Linked DNA regions of Homo sapiens: region 2 is linked to region 1. A link means that fine-mapping ties the variant in region 1 to the expression of a gene that starts in the linked region. Tissue or cell type: lung. Region 1 holds a variant in brackets; the other region holds the start of a gene. All regions are shown on one strand. Distances are between the middles of the regions.

Region 1 (8,107 bases):
TGTGATCCTTCCATTTAGTTATTCATCCCAGAAATCACACACATCACTTCTGTTCATAACTTATCAACCAGGACCTAACTGCAAGGAAACCCAGATGTGTAGACTCCATGCGTAGGGAAGTTCCAGAAGTGTTAATATAATATGAAATAAAGGAGGGAACTGAGTAGATTTGTCAAAGTAACACTGCAGATCAGCAGGTAAAATATCATGCCGTAAATATTTGGTACAATTTGGTGGCTAAAGGCAAAATTAAGTAAAATTTTACATTTCTGACTTATACTTTATACCAAAATAAATTCAAAGATGATCAAAGGTGTAAAAAAAAAAGGCCCGATACATTTAGTGGAAGTAAAAAGAGGAATAATCCTTTTCATAATATTAATGTAACAAAAAAAATCTATAAATGGTAAGGCGGTTAAATTTGGCTGCACACAAATTTGGAATTTCAACATAGAAACACACATATATGCACATAGAGAGGGAAAAACAAGTGACACCTTATAGAGAAACATTTGTAATATTCTTCAGAGATAGAAGATTCATTTCCTTAACAGATAGAAGGTTCTTCCATGGCAATATATTCAACTGTGCGCATAACTCAACTCACTACAGAGGAATGAATGAGAAGCTTAAAAATCTTAAAGAAGAAAAAAAGAAAATGTCTCTAAAACACATAAACTGAAAATATTGCCTGTTTTTACAATCCAGTTTGCCAAGATCAAAACATTTTATTTTGTATTGTGTTTTCCACAGGTGGGGACACATGCGTTCTCTTCCATCATTAGTGGGGTTATAAATGGTGCCCTCTTTATAGGACATTTTGGCGGGTACCCTAATAACACACACTCTTGATTGAACAAATTTAGTATAGTAAGTTATCCTACTGACATATTTACATATATTAAAAAAAAGTAAATTACCCAAAGCCTGTGCACCATATCAAAATATTAGGAACTATGTACATTCTAGGATACTACACACTTCTCGTTTATCTCTCCTTCATCTCGGGTTTCTCCTTTCAATCTGATTTATTAATTCCTCGTCATCTTCTCAATGGTAAACTGTGCCAAAATCCAGCCCCAAGACTTCTTGTCTTCTTTCTTTCCTCCCATTCTTTTGAGGAGTCACCTACTATCATAAATAGTATGTAATGCTGATAAGTCTCCAAATTATATGTTCATCCTGGATTCTTCCCTGTACTCAAGGTTCATATATCCAACTGATTTCTCTTAATTTCCTGACGGGTCCCTCCATGATAGTTAGTCCTAAGTGAATTGCTGATATTTCCAACTCTGAAATATTTTTCAGTCTCAGAAAAATAGAACAATCTGGTCATGTACTTCCACATGAATGGATATTGTGCTGAGTGCAATAAAGCCAGCCACAAAAGAGCAAATAGCATATGGTCCCACTCTACGAACCACCTAAAGTCGTCAAAATCATAGAAATGGAAAGCAGTGAGGTGGTTGCCAAGGCCTGGGGGAAGTAGGGGGAATTATGGTTTACTGCAAGCCAAGTTTTGGTTGTGCAGGATGAAAAGGATCTGAAGCTCTGCTGTGCAGAGAGGGGAATGTACTGCACGCTGCTGATCGGTGCACTTAAAAACGGTTAAGATGGTATAAAGTGTGTCGTGCCTCTGCTCGATTTTAGTGATACAAAGATCACAAGGAATACATGCTCCCTTTTTATACGGCGTCCATAGAAAGATGGAGTAGGAGATAAATTGAACAAAGAAAAGTTAAGTGATTGCAATTCAGATAAGAACTATGGAGATGCAGAGAGTGTTATGAAAATTATCAACAGGGCACTTGACTTTGTGGCAAGTAGTCTGTATACACAATTACTTTATAAAGGCTTAAATGTATGAATTATTTATAAATGTCCAATATAGCTTTCTACTGTAATTGTTCAACAATATACTACATCATTACCTGCGCAGTTTGTATCAGATTGTGCTGCCATAAGAATTTGGTGAGGAAAGACATACAGAAAGACAATCGCAGTGCCTGACATGGGCTAGATCAGTAAAGAGTAGCTGTGATGTCTGGTACTATTGGTGGTTGCAGCCAGATGGTAGCAGCATATATTAAAATTATAATTTGTCTGGATGTTGAGAGCTGCAAAAACAACTATAACTCTTTTCCTAATCATGAACTATTTAATGAATTTTTCCCTGTGAAGAGCTTGGAACAGTGGCTGGCACATGACAACTATTACACTTATTACCCATGCTATTAACATTGTTACAATTATTATTACTATTGTTACAGGCATTCTTTAGGGAGAGACGTGTTTCTTGCCATTTCCAAACAACCAATAATTGCTTGTGGCTCTTTTTTAAGCAGTTTATCACAGGAAAATTCTGCATATGCTTCTGGTTTGCCCTGGCCGCGTCTCCATCTGTTACTCAGTTTCTCTCATGGATTCGCAACCCACATTCAACTGCCTTTTCAACTTGCAAAAGGGTCTTGTTTTTTGCATGACTCTTTATTTTTAATCATAAAAAGTAACCATTTTGTGTGCTCGTTTTTCTTTGTCCTACAAGGATATAGCGTACTAACCTTTATTCAGTGCTGAGTCATTTGACATTTGATTATTTTATTTATGGAACATCTCTCTTTTCGGGCACGGGACCACCAGCTGCTTAAAATCTTTGATATTGTCTTTGCCTCTGTCACCCTCACTAGAGGTTGAGTTCTTTGTGCCATTTTCTTTTACACAGACAGCAGGATGTTGTTTATCCAGTAGGCGTAAATATGCATGTGACATGGCCTGGGGTGGCGGGGGTCTCACCAGAATGCAGACCCTGGATGGTGAGTGAGGTTGGTTAACCACCAAAGAACGTATGCATTCAGACATCAACATAATTGTCCCTCCTATACCTGTGGTTTCTTGAGAATAGTCAAATTTGGAGATATGAATTTTTGAATCCCACGTACTTGTTTACTACTAAAGTACAGTAATGTTTATTCTAAATACTCAGCAAAATATGGCTTCCTTTTAACGCACATTTTGAGTTTCTGGGTCAAATCTCAGAAACCATTGATGTATTAGAGTTTAAGTTAGAAAATGCCACAACAAACAATAAATCAACTAATTAGAAATCACAGTCATGGCAAGAATGGCCAGAACATAGACAGGATGTTGCTATTT[C/A]TCCAACTGGGACAGAACATCTTGTTCGTCATCTTCCAACCTTTATGTCAGTTGGAAAATATTGATTTATGTTTCATCACTTTGTTTAATGATGTAAAAATAGAAAATATTTTAGATAAAAGATTATTTATGCATTATTTTTAGATTTTCTTCTTTCCCAAACATTAGAACATGTGATCGCTGAGGAACCCCATCCCCTAGAGAAAGCTTTGCCATGCATGAGATGAGATATATGCATTCAATAAGCAAATGAGCAAATGGCTAATTATCATTCATGGATCTATTTATCTCCATCAGAAAGTTGGGCCCTAAGAAACAGGTAGGATTGGTCGACAGGATGGTGGAGCTATGCCAGGTGGCAGAAAGAAGACGGTGTATGGCAGGGTGAGAAAGGTGTGTGCGTTTCTGGGAGAGAAGAGAAGAAGACAAGGTATCCCTGGATGATCAGAGTGAGGGAGCTGGCGGAATAGAGCATTTCCAAAAGCCTTTTCATTGCTTTTTTCTCACTATATGCAACATTTTACAACTTTTTAGGTGGCTTATGTTTATGGCCCAAATTGAAATGAACATGAGTAATAGCAAAATCCAACAAGAATTTCAAATTTAGTAATGTAGGAGGCAGAATAATTTTATTAGAAATTAAACACACACCAAAATAAAATATCTTGGCATGCGACAATGTTACTATGCATCACCAACATTAAAATCTGCCTTCTGCATTGTTGCTCTGAAGGTCTATATGACTCTTGAAAAATAGTTTATGCTTAATTCTGTGTTAATCTGAGAGAACGCCATTGCATTGATTTGCGACACCATCCATAAGGAACATAGATGTTTGCCTGACTCCAGCTTCCCAGAAGAATGGATTTGAGTACGACAGTCACATTTCTGAACAAAAATGATCTGTTGGGCTACATACATCATGACAAATAGTTCCTATACACCAGGTTGCAGATTTAAAATAAATTGACTGCTCGGTGATAAATTCCTGGAGTAGGAGAAGAGGTCAGTGCACATGAAAACACTGGCATAACCTCACCTACAGAGATACGGATGGTTCTCTACAGCTACAATTATTTCATAATGGGCAGGAGGGTTTATCAGGCTAAACAGACCATATGGTGAAATGAATCCTTAAATTGAAAACAGAAAGACATTTTTAAATTGTCAAAGAGGAGGTAAAGTCATCGACACATTTCTATAAAGCACAAGAGCAAAAAAATCTGAAAAGCTAAAATATGGCAAGGTAAAAAGCACACACGCACACACAGTTCAGGACCCTGCTGATGATAAAATTTGAAATTTAAAAAAGTACTTAACTTTTGACCTCCGTGGATTTAGCGCATGAGAAAATTAGAGAAATATGATTTCTGTGATGTTTTAAACCACGGTTCTGTCTAATTATGCATAGTGTTTTGGTCATGTTTTGATCGCCCCAAAGAAGAAAAAAAAATAGCTCGCTTGATTGGCAGACAGCACAAATAGATAAGAAAACTCGGTCGTTGCCACTAGACAAGGTTTGTTGCCAACGTGGGCGCCCCTCTGTAAGGACAATGGACTTTAAAAGACCATGTAAAAGTCGCATTAGGCTGTTGGTGAAGTTCAATCTAAAAGGGGATAAACATTCTAAATTCCTCGATTTTCTTTTTACTCTTAACTTCTTTTACTCTTAACTTAGAATACGAAGAGGAGAGCTCACTTGTTCATGATGTTGCCTTTACTCCTCTAATAAACACCTTACCTGCTGAGGGAAAGGACAGGTGTTTGTCAATCTTTTGTTTATTAGGAAATAAAAGACCCACGAGCCCCAACTGCATGAAAAATAGGGAACTGGCTTGAATATGGCATCTGCTCTCCTCTAATGTAATTTCTCCAGCTTAATTGCTTTCCGACAGCAATCTCTGGATTTTTCAGAAGCCTTCTGTCCAATATTTAGCCACAGAAGATTCTCCTAGACCTCTTTCTTGGTGACAAAAACAGAACATTTAAATTATATGGCTATACATAACATTTTTTATTTAAGCATTTACTATTTTATATGTGTGTGTCTCTGTCGACTTTAGGTATATTAATCATAACAGGCTGATGGTGGAAGGCCCAGAAATATCTTTGAATGTGCATCAGAAGTGAATCCCATTATCTTATCTAGAGCTTCATTAAATATACAAACCCATACAAAAGCAAACAACTCTGCTATTCCATCTCGATTTATGGAATTTGAAGTTTTTCTCTAGTACAAAGACTGCTTCCCATTAGAGTTTAGAAACTCAGAGAAATTGCAGAGAAAATTATAGTCATTTGGAGCCAAAACACGTGCCCATGTAATTAATTTGATGAAGAAATATATAGGGACTTTACTTCTATTTTTTTTTCTGTGAAGAGAGTAAAAAATATTAGATTAGAAAATAGCACTTCTTTTTCTTTAAAAAAAAGATTATACTTTAAGTTCTGAGGTACATGTGCAGAACCTGTAGGTATGTTACATAGGTATACATGTGCCATGGTGGCTTGCTGCACCCATGAACACGTCACCCACATTAGGTATTTCTCCTAATGTTATCCCTCCCGTAGCCCCCCACCCCCCGACAGGCCCCGGTGTGTGATGTTTCCTTCCTTACGTCCATGAAAAATTATACTTAGATCACATATGAAAATGGTACTATTTTTGACATGCTAGGTAAATAAAATATATTATTTGAAAAAAAAGAAAGAACAGCACTTCTGTGGGCACAGAAGAATTTAGATTAAAATCACATCTGCTTTTAGAAGGAGCTGGGCTCTTCTCAGAATTTAAATCTCTGTAAACAATCAAATCACTGTAGAGTTTTATCTTAGTCCTTTTTATTCTGTCCCAGATTTTATTTTTGAGTCAACTCAGCTGTATGCTGGATCATGCCTGTCCATTTCAGAATGTCGGAGAACAAAAAATCCGTGTTCCGAATTCCCTCTGATTTCAGGAACATTTGTACCCAATTATATTGGTTAGTTGACATTCTGTTTAATATTTTGATTTCAGGGAAAATCTCTCTCTTTGATAGTGTAGAACCAGTGATGTGGTAATTCATTTAGTCTCTTATAGTATCATCTCATATGATATGGGTAAAAATACTATCAAGAGTGATATTTTTAGGGCTAAATTATATTCCATTGTTTGTGTGTGTGTGTGTGCTATGCAAACATATGTGTGTATATGTATATATATCACAATTCATTTATCCATTCCTCTGCCAACAGACACTTTGGTAAGCACAACGTCTTGCCTATTACGAATAATGCTGCAATGAAAATGAAGGCGCAGATATATTTATTATTATTGTTATATTATTATTATATCTTATTATCAAGGTAGTGATTTTTGGGTAGACCAAAGGAAGGCAGTATTCTAAATAAAAAAAGCAACACAGAAGGAAAAGTACTGCATGATTTTACTTACGTGTGAAATCTAAAACAAAAGATAAAACTTAGGTATGTAGAAACAGGGAGTAGAATGGTGCTTACCAGATGCTGGGGCTGGGATATGAGCACAGATATATGTCAAAGCATAGAAAATGTAAACTATGTAGGATGAATATGTTTTAGGAACATAACGTACAGTGTGAGGACTACAGTTAATAATATTGTAGTCTGGACATTTGCTGAGAGTAGATTTTAGGTGTTTTTATGACACGTGTAAAAGGTAACTGTAGCAATCATTTCACAATGTACCTGTGTATCAAAGCAGCGTGATATGCACCTTAAAGAGATACAATATAAACTAGTGATAATTGCACCTTTGTACTGCTGGGAAACACACAAATACCCTCATAATCATAAAACTTGGAAACGTTGAAATAGAAGAATTTGTGGCTTTGTACGTGATAAAATGTCTTAAATGAGCCGTTGATGACTTCCATTGATTTATCTTGGTAATCTGGATGGTTCTTCCCAACACCTTCAGCTTAAATTTCTCTACCTCTAAACAGAGAGTTGATTGGTTTGAGCTTATGGTCAGGCATGGTTATACAATTGTGCTGTCATCTTACTTTTGCAATTACTATTACATTTGTGGTGGTTAATGCTGAGTGTCAACTTGATTGGATTGAATGATGCAAAGTATTGACGGTGGGTGTGTCTGTGAGGGTGTGTCCAAAGGAGATTAACATTTGAGTCAGTGGACTGGGAGAGGCAGACCCACCTCAATCTGGGTGGGTATCATCTAACTGCCAGTGCAGCTAGAATAAAGCAGGCAGGAGAAGATGGAAGAGCAGACTTGCTGAGTCTTCTGGCGTTCATCTTTCTCCCGTGCTGGATGCTTCCTGCTATAGAACATCATGCTCCAAGTTCTTCGGCTTTTGGACTCTCGGACTCACGCTAGTGATTTGCCAGGGGCTCTCGGGCCTTCGGCCACAGACAAGGCTGCACTGTTGGCTTCCCTAATTTTGGGGTTTTGGGACTTGGACTGATCCACCTACTGGCCTCCTTGCTCCTCAGCTTGCACACAGACTGTTTTGGGTCTTCACCCTGTGACCCTGTGAGCTTTTTTGTGAGTGCATAGGGAAAGCCCCACACACTTTAGGCAGAGGGTGCAGCTGCCTAATGTGTGAGCCGCAGGAACTGGAACGCTATCGACTTATGAATCTCTATAGTTTAAACTTAAATGTCAAGAGCAAGAACTGTGGAGTCAAACAATCCCAGGGTTAGATACCATCTCTGTTCTTTGCTACATATATATTCTCAAACCATTTCCTCCTCTTCTCCAATCTTCCCTCTCATTATCTTAAAATGGGCTAACATCCATTGCGCAGGGAAGATGCACAGACTCCAGCAGTGAACGTGGTGCAGGGAGCCCCTGGGGTGTCAGCAGAGCAGAGCTGGGGTGTCAGCAGAGGCAGTTATGCAGGTGCTGAGGGTAGCTGCAGAGCAGAACAGGAGGTTCCACCTACGTTTTCCCCTCAGTTGCATTTGGTCATTGATT
Region 2 (8,107 bases), 320 kb before region 1:
CTTTAAAGTTTATTTGAGAGAGAAATACAGGTTCCTGCCAAATAATACCTGAAAGTCATATTCTGTGACGAAGGTGTTTTTTTTTTTTTTTTTTTTAAAGATACATACAGCTGCCTTTGTGGCATAGTAACTAAAATATAACTTCTACAGAAAAAAATATCATTTCCAAGACTATGGATTATACTTAATGAAAGTATTGTGTCCTGACCACCCTTCAGTGGTAGCCCCGGCATGCTTTATTTCAGAGCTCACAGATCATTTTGATAAGAAGCATATCATGCCAAAGTCACTCTCAGAGTCACACATAGAAAAGGAGCCAGATGTCACCACACTGGGAAATTAAAGTTATCATGCATCTTCAAAAATGATTCTTGTCCCTTAGACTAGGTAGAAATACGCATCTGACAGGCAACAGGGTCAGCATGTATCTTAATTGTCTTTATTCCCCCATAAGAACAGCCCTTACCTTGTGCTTCTGTCAGTGTCTTCAGTTAGCACCTAATAGAGCCACACTAAATTCCTTAACAGTCTCTCATACACACGTGGATTTTAAATTGTGGCAAGTATAGAGTTTTAATATCAGATAAGCTTAAAATTGAGGTTATTCTATTCATTTATGGTTGTTAAGATTCATGACAATTAGAACATAATTTAAACTCACCATTGTTTTTATAAAATAAAAAATATCAGCATCTGTAATAACTAGGTATCATAGATGAAGTAATCAATTCCCAGGAAAATGCAAATAATTATTTAATGTGTCTCTTAGCTGGTTACTTTACCTTTTAATTTGATCAGTTACATCTACATGGTTAACGTTTCCCCAAAAATTGAATCTTTAGCCGTTTGATTTGACTTTCCTATCAAGATAGCTGCCGGCAGGTGCCCTGGGAAATTCTCCCGCACGCCAGAAATCTCTTCGTAACAGAAATCAGTGTACAAAACCTGAATGCCCTTTCCCGCTTCAATTTTTGGCTATGAAAATTAAGGGACTTGACATATTCAAAATAACCAAGGTATGGAAATATTTGCTATAGGAGTTTTATTTTGAATTGCTAAAGTTAAGTTTATAGCAAATGAAGTCTTTCCCCAGATTTCCTTTTTCCCCCTAAATTGAATACTTTCTAAGCTAGCATGACTGACGCTTCCTGGCAAGGCAAGTGAATTTGGAGAAAGGCAACACTTTCCTCCTGTTTATATTTATAAAATGCATTATTGCGAACTATTACTCCACATTCTTCAACTCTAAATATTTAAATAGACTAATCAAAAAATATTGGGAAATGTGAACATTTCAAGTGTAAAGATGATGCTTCCTTTTTCCTCTTTTAAAAGTCATATTCATTATTCAATCCGGTGACTTTCTCAATATCAATGCCACTTTGTGTTGGCATTATCTTTGGAGGACACTAACAGGTCTGTTTCAAAATGATAATTTCAAACAACAAAGTGAATCGCAAGCGCACACTTAGCAGCTGAGAGGTAAATGAGAACCACAACATCACCTCCCTTCTGAAACCAAAGGCTCCAAAACCTTTTGAGGAAGTTGTGGGGGCCAATCCCTCCCAGTGGTCCTGACGTTCGGTCATAATGAATGACTGTTTGCTATTGACATTTATGCCTGCTGACTGTCTGGATAATTTCTATTATTGGAAGAGGCAATAAAGGACCTGGTGACGGTTCGAGGGCACACAGGAAACGGTCTGGTAGAAACTTATCTTAGGCCAATGCAAAGATGAAAATTCTTCAGGAAAGATGGACAACCCCAAACACACCTAACGTTGCCTCCTGCTTTCAAACAACTGGCAAAGCTGATCAATTCTAGCTGTGTTTTTCCAACCGTTCTTTATACTTCTACCTCACTTAAAAAAAATCAGCACATTTCAAATCATGATTAGAACTGAACTTTCTCCTGCAGGCTCACTAGGAACTGACAATAACACAGGTTCCTCTAGGAGAGAAGGGTCGGCATGAGAAGAATCTTTTAATTCTTCCTGGCATGCACACAGGCTACGATGGCACTGGGGGCATTGCTCTCATATTGGAGCGATTGCTAATTTTGCAAAATCCCCAGTGTGAAAGCCCTCCCTTGCTGTAGCATTGACTAACTTCAGCGCGGCCCAGCCCCAGGAATATCAGTAACAAGGCACAGCTGAGTTTGTCAGTGGCCGCTGTCAGCCGGCTGCTTTTCCTGCTTTCCTGGTTTGCGGTTTTTTTCTACCACTAACAAAATATGATGCTTCTTTCTGTTTTCCTGTATTCATTTCTGCTTATTTCTCCAAGGACGAGCCCTGTGTTCTCTTTACGACCCAATGTTTACAAATCGACGGGCACCACATTGAGTAAAAACTGCCAGCCAATTTGGAGAGGCGATCGCAGGGCTTCGCCTATCCCTTCCTCCGGGACAGTTTGGATGGGAGTAGCTGGCGCGAGGGCTCGTTCCCCCGTTTTTGGGTAATTCCTTTGGCACTGGGAGACGAGATGGCCTCCGGAGGGTGGAAGGCAGTGCCAGCCCGGCCGGCCACTGGGGACTGCGGGGCCCGGAGACGCGCGGGGTCCCCGGGGAGCTCCTCGCCGCCCTCGCCCCACTTCGTCCGGGTCCCTCAAACATGTCGCAGCGTGGCTGCTCACTGTCCCCTCTGGGCAAGAGGAGGCCCCAGACATTTCCACGGGATCTGAACTCCCGAGCGCCCTGCACGGAGCAGCCATCCCGCCAGCACCCCAAAGTGAAGCTGCTCACAACGGACAAGCCCGGAGACCCCATGAGAGGCCGGGGTGGAGAAGCCGGGGGTGAAGGGGGGCAGGGGCCGGCGCGCCACGCGGTCCTTACCTTTCCGCTTGGACCTCCGCCTCCTCCTCCTCTTGGACTTGCATTTGAGTTGACTGCTCAGCCCTCCAGACCCTCTGCCGCTCCCCAGGACCGAGGCCATGGCCGAGACCCAGGCGCGGAGCCCAGAGCCGCCTCCCTCCTGCACCTGCACCTGCCTCCTTCCCGGCAGCCGCCGCCGCCGCTGCTGCGAAGCTTGAGGTTGCAAACCCGGGAGCGGCTCACTTTTCAGGACTGAGCAGGAAAGCGCGCTCCGTCTCTCTGTCTCTCGAATTGTTCTCTATGACTTGCTCCCACTGGGCTGGGGGCCTCGGCTGGGCGCCTGGAGCGAGCTGCTCCCTGGTCAGGGAGGGCGGGGAAGGGCGCGCGGCGTCCTGAGTGCTCCGAGCTTCCCGCGGGCTCTGCCTCCTGCTCTGGGCTCCCAGCGCAGGGAGGCTACTTTTGCGCCTCTGCTAGTTGTTTGGCACCAGCCACTTTGAAGCCAATCACGCAGGGAGCTTGTCTATTTGCTGCAGCAGCGTCTAATTAGATCCAATCACAACTGCTTTCTGGCTCTGACATCAGCAGCAGCACCAGCCGCACCGCCGCCTGGCCGCTTGCAAACTCAGCTCCCGTTTGGACGGTGAAGCTCCCAGGACCGGCGGCTGGAGGGAGGCTGCTCCCGGGGAACAAGGACGCGGCGCGGGTGCGTCTGGGAGAGACCGGGGGAGCCTCCAGGAGGGACCCTGCCCGGGAGGACGAGGCCTCCTGCCGCAGCCTCGCGGACAGCTCAGCTCGCCCTGCTCAGAAAGACACAGGGACGGGTTTTTCCAACCAACAGTTTTTAACTAGTCAATTCATTACCATGCTCCTTGTGTCAAGGGGGGGAAATACCTCTTTCAGAAATGCAGAGACCGCACTTCCTCAGAAACGGACTGAGGTTTGCAATTCCCCAGGAGACAGCGTCCTGAGGGGCATTTATTCCTCAGAGCCTGCATGCTTGTCTGTTTGCCTCTTCTTTCCCCTCTTCATATTCCTTGGCCGTTTCCAATGCAAAAGATAAATCTTGCATAAAGACAGAGGTTTTGGGATCTGAGTCTGATTTTTGCCGTCAGGAATTTCATGTGTTGCTTTATTTAGGGAACAATGACACAAAAGGAAGAGAAAGCTCTCAGCGGAGAGTTTTGTTGCCAAATGTAATATTTGGATGGAAGAAAGTAACATTTACAAAGAGGTGGATTGCACACTGAAATAGTTTTAAGCAATTTTTTTTTCCAGGAATGTCCTATGTTTCAAGATTATACTTATGGAACCCTGGAAGTCTTATGTAAAATATAAAGAGGAATAGAATCTGGTAATCATCATTGCATCTTGTATTTAAATCACATAAGCTTTTAATTACAATAGTCATGTTTTTAAAAAAATCCACTCTAAAATTCATTAGCACACATTAACATGTTGATATAAAAATGGCACACAAATATTTCTGCTATTCATTGCCTCACATGCAACCTTTTCAGCTGCTTATGTGCCTAGAAATTTCCAGATAATTTTTATCATAAGAAAAAAGAATCACTCTGGGGGACATTGGAAATAATTAGGATGATCCTGTGTTGTTATGTGCTGAGCTGATAGATCGTAGCTCAGTTTTCATTGATGAGAGAGAGTAAGACATTTGATTTCAAATCTTAACTCTACTGCTATGACCTCGGGTAAGTTAAACCGTGCCTCAGTTTCCTCATCTGTAAACTGGGGATAACAACGTCACCCACCTCATAAGTTCATTCATACTCGTTGAATCAGTATCAACCAGTATAGACAGGAACTGGAACATGTTAATTACTCTATGATTATTTATTAAATTTTTTCCAGCAAATAATTTGGAAGGAATGAGCGTATGTTGCAGACAAGCCTCAGAAAGACAGGGCTTCTGCGTTTTCCTTTTAGAATGTTGAACCTTCTAGTCCAACTCAGACTGAGGACCACAATCAAACCAACATCCCTCTTCAGGGCTGGCTTCAACAACCCTGTTCCCATGACAGCACAGCTCAGCTCTGCTGATAATTCCCAGCGAGGGTTGAGAAGGCACATAGCTCTCTCACTTCCTCTCTGCAATACCCGAGATATTTGAGTGCTTAAACTATATCGAGAAACACAGCTCTAGGACTCTGCCTGTGAAACTTCTGAGCTTCACACAATGTGCTGCACTAATCCAGAGTTGCCCTATTTCTGTATCTGCAGAAAACCCATCAGGGGGTGGAGTCACCGAAGGAAGGTGCTTCAGAAGAGCTTCACACACACACACAGCCCCCACAAGGTGGTCAGCATTTATTAATGGCCCCAATAGCTCCATCATCACACGGAGCAACCGTGCTGTCTGGGAGACTCGTATACATGAACCCTTGTTTCACTCCAAGGGCAGGTATGGTGGCCGGAAAGTAACGTGTCTGTTAAATGTTCTTCTGATGTTGGTGGAGTGGGGAAACAAAACTGAAAACTGTCTTTGAACACTTCATTTAGACCCTAATTTGAAAGTTACGATCGAAATTTTGGCAAACCTTTTTCTTGAAGTTCCTCCAATTGGTTCTTTTTTGTATAATTTATGAAAATGCTGTTTTCACAGATACTTGCTGTTTTCTGTATTTTATTTATTTTGCATAAGACGATGCATAATAGATGATGCTAGGGCGACGGCTAGGCGAGAAAGCCTTTGTTTCTCATCACAGAGGGGCTTTAAAGAAGAGGCTCGCAGCGACAAGTGCGTTAACTCCAGCGTGGTTTCCAGCACGTCTCACTCTGCTGTTGCAAGCAGGGCTGCGAGTGAGCAGTGCTGGTAAGCTGCCATTCCCCGATGAGCCTCCTCACCTCCTGCCTGTTTCCCACAGTGCCTCAGCGCAGCTTTGCAACGTGGTGGGATGAGCAGCAGTTGGAAGAGGCTTCAGGAGCAGGAGCCAATCTCGCCCGGTGCCCATCAGGAGATGTCGCTGTGGTGTCCCCAGCTACTTCATGCTCAGTCCCTGCTCTTCCCACAAAACAAAGCACCAGCAGAGAGGTTGCAAGGAGGAACAGGCAGCTACAAAGCCAACTGCAGCCCGGCATGAACCTATAGGGGTCGGGGGGAGACGGGTGAGGCATAGAAAGGAGCCCTTGGCTGGATAGAAGGGGCAGTGCTGCCTCCGCAGTGAGTCCCCACACCCAAATGGCATGTGTGTGCCAGGAGGAAGAGTTTTCTCAATCAAGGCCAGAAAGGGTCCTCTTGTTGGAGTTGCTTAAAGCTCCCCCAACTCACTGTTGCTCTCATCAGTCCTACAATGTTACAGGTCTCCTGTGTGATATTTTGCTTGTTTCTTCAATGTCTGTCTCTCCATAGATCACAAGCACCACAGGAGGCAAAACCACGTCTCTCTGTGGCTTTGCGGCTGTGCGGGCACTGACCTGGGACACAAGTGTCCTTGCAGGGCAGAGGCTGATATTTACCACTGGGGCAGTGCTTGCTCTGCTCAAGGTATGGTTCTGAGCTTAAATGTTATAGTGACTCTCAGTTAATGCACAAGACCTCGATGGCGGCAGGACTGAAACAATATTCATTTCAGAGGCTCAGACAACTTAGGTAACTTGCTAGAAGTCACACGGGTTACTAGTCAGGATTCACATTCAGCACATCCTAACTTCACAGTCTGGGGTTGTTACCACTACGCCCTGCTGGTATTTTATCCTGCAGCCTGAAATTGGTAGATTTTGTGAACTTCTACAAGCCTTCTTGAGATAAGCAAAAAATACATTAAATAGTGACTCAAAGCTTCAGTAAGCCTATGTGTGTGCATAATATACACACATATAAACATATCAGAATTTTTCTTTCCTCAGAATGAACATACAATGTGGACAGAAAGACCTTATCATCCTCATTTTTCCCCTGAGGTTACGAAGGTGAAGTGTGAGGTCTGGATTCGTGTCATGTTGCCAGATAGCAGCAGAGCCATGACCCGAATGTAAGGTTCCAATACATTCCCGAAATAACAGCCATGAGAAATTTCATAGATTCACATAACTGCCCTGATCTTTTATTTCTGCAAAAGAGAGACCTAAGGCATCCTTCCTGCGGCTGACCACACAGCTTGCATCTTTTAACCCATATTCAGATCATCTTGTGCCCACTCCCGAATGTTTTCCTCTCAACTCCTTGACCTGTCTGAAGACATGGACAACTATTCTTTGCTTCAAAGTCCTGATGGTCAATACTGACTTACAATACTTCAGTTCTTAATGCATTGCAATGTCTTTCCAGATAGTTAAAGGGTTGGCTGACTTGATTTCTTATTGGTTTCCCGAAACAAATAACACTGACAAACAAACATGGTTTCTTTAGAATCAGAATTCTAGTTAATATCCCCTTCCCTCCATCAGACAATTTCACTAGGTGGAAAATAGCAGAATAAAGGATTCTCTGGAGATATTTGTGTTTGCTGACTCACTTTATCATCACATATGACACACAATTATGACTTTTTACAAGAAATAGCACAAGGGGACTTTTTTACTCTTTCATCTTCAGCCGTTGCTCTTAAGTCTAAATAACACACATCAAAGAACTTGGGCATGAGACCTGAAAGTATTTCCAAATAATATTGTGCAATATACCTGCTATGCCACATGCACGTGTATTCACATTCTCTTCAAAGGGCATGGAAGGAGGCTGGTGAAGGGGAGGGGGCAGCAGAGAAGTCCCAGGATGCAGAGGAGCATCTTGAATATGAAATGCTCTTTATCCTACACTTTTACCAGAGTAGTTTTTCCCTTTGTTCATTCTTTTTCTTGGAGGCATGCTTATGGTTTGAGAACAGCAAATGCACACTTAGCAATTTCCTGAATGAACTTGGTGTAAAGCAGGCGGGTGGATCACCTGAGGTCAGGAGTTCGAGACCATCCTGGCCAACATGGTGAAACCCCGTCACTCCTAAAAATACAAAAATTAGCGAGGTGTGGTGGTGCACACCTGTAGTCTCAGCTACTGGGGAGGCTGAGGCATGAGAATCACTTGAACCCAGGAGGCAGACATTGCAGAGAGCCAAGATTGCACCACTGCACTCCAGCCTGGGTGACAGAGTGAGACTCCATCTCAAAAAAATAATAAAAAATAAAATAAAATAAAAAGACAGTGCTTGGAAAATACAAGTGAAAAAAAAATCCTACATGCATAATCACAAGAACAGACTCCAAATTCTGCTTCTGTTGGTGCTATGGGTCTAACACATTGGGGAAGACATAACCCTTTCTGAACATCATCTGTAAAAGGAGGGA

Evidence for each region. PIP is the estimated chance that this variant, and not a neighbour inherited with it, causes the effect.
Region 2: ADARB2 starts here. The variant in region 1 is fine-mapped to the expression of ADARB2 in lung (GTEx, PIP above 0.99).

What each region holds. Positions count from the first base shown.
Region 1 is chr10:2,049,869-2,057,975 of GRCh38, forward strand. No RefSeq gene overlaps it. Among named protein-coding and RNA genes, the nearest start is that of MIR6072, 22 kb to the right of the region's middle. The variant C/A (reference allele first, on the strand shown) is at 3,154.
Region 2 is chr10:1,734,221-1,742,327 of GRCh38, forward strand. It overlaps ADARB2 (adenosine deaminase RNA specific B2 (inactive)), which reads right to left and starts at 3,305. Exons shown (of 10, transcript NM_018702.4): 1 at 2,831-3,305. The coding sequence starts at 2,930. RefSeq lists an enhancer at 2,637-3,233 and a silencer at 3,195-3,254.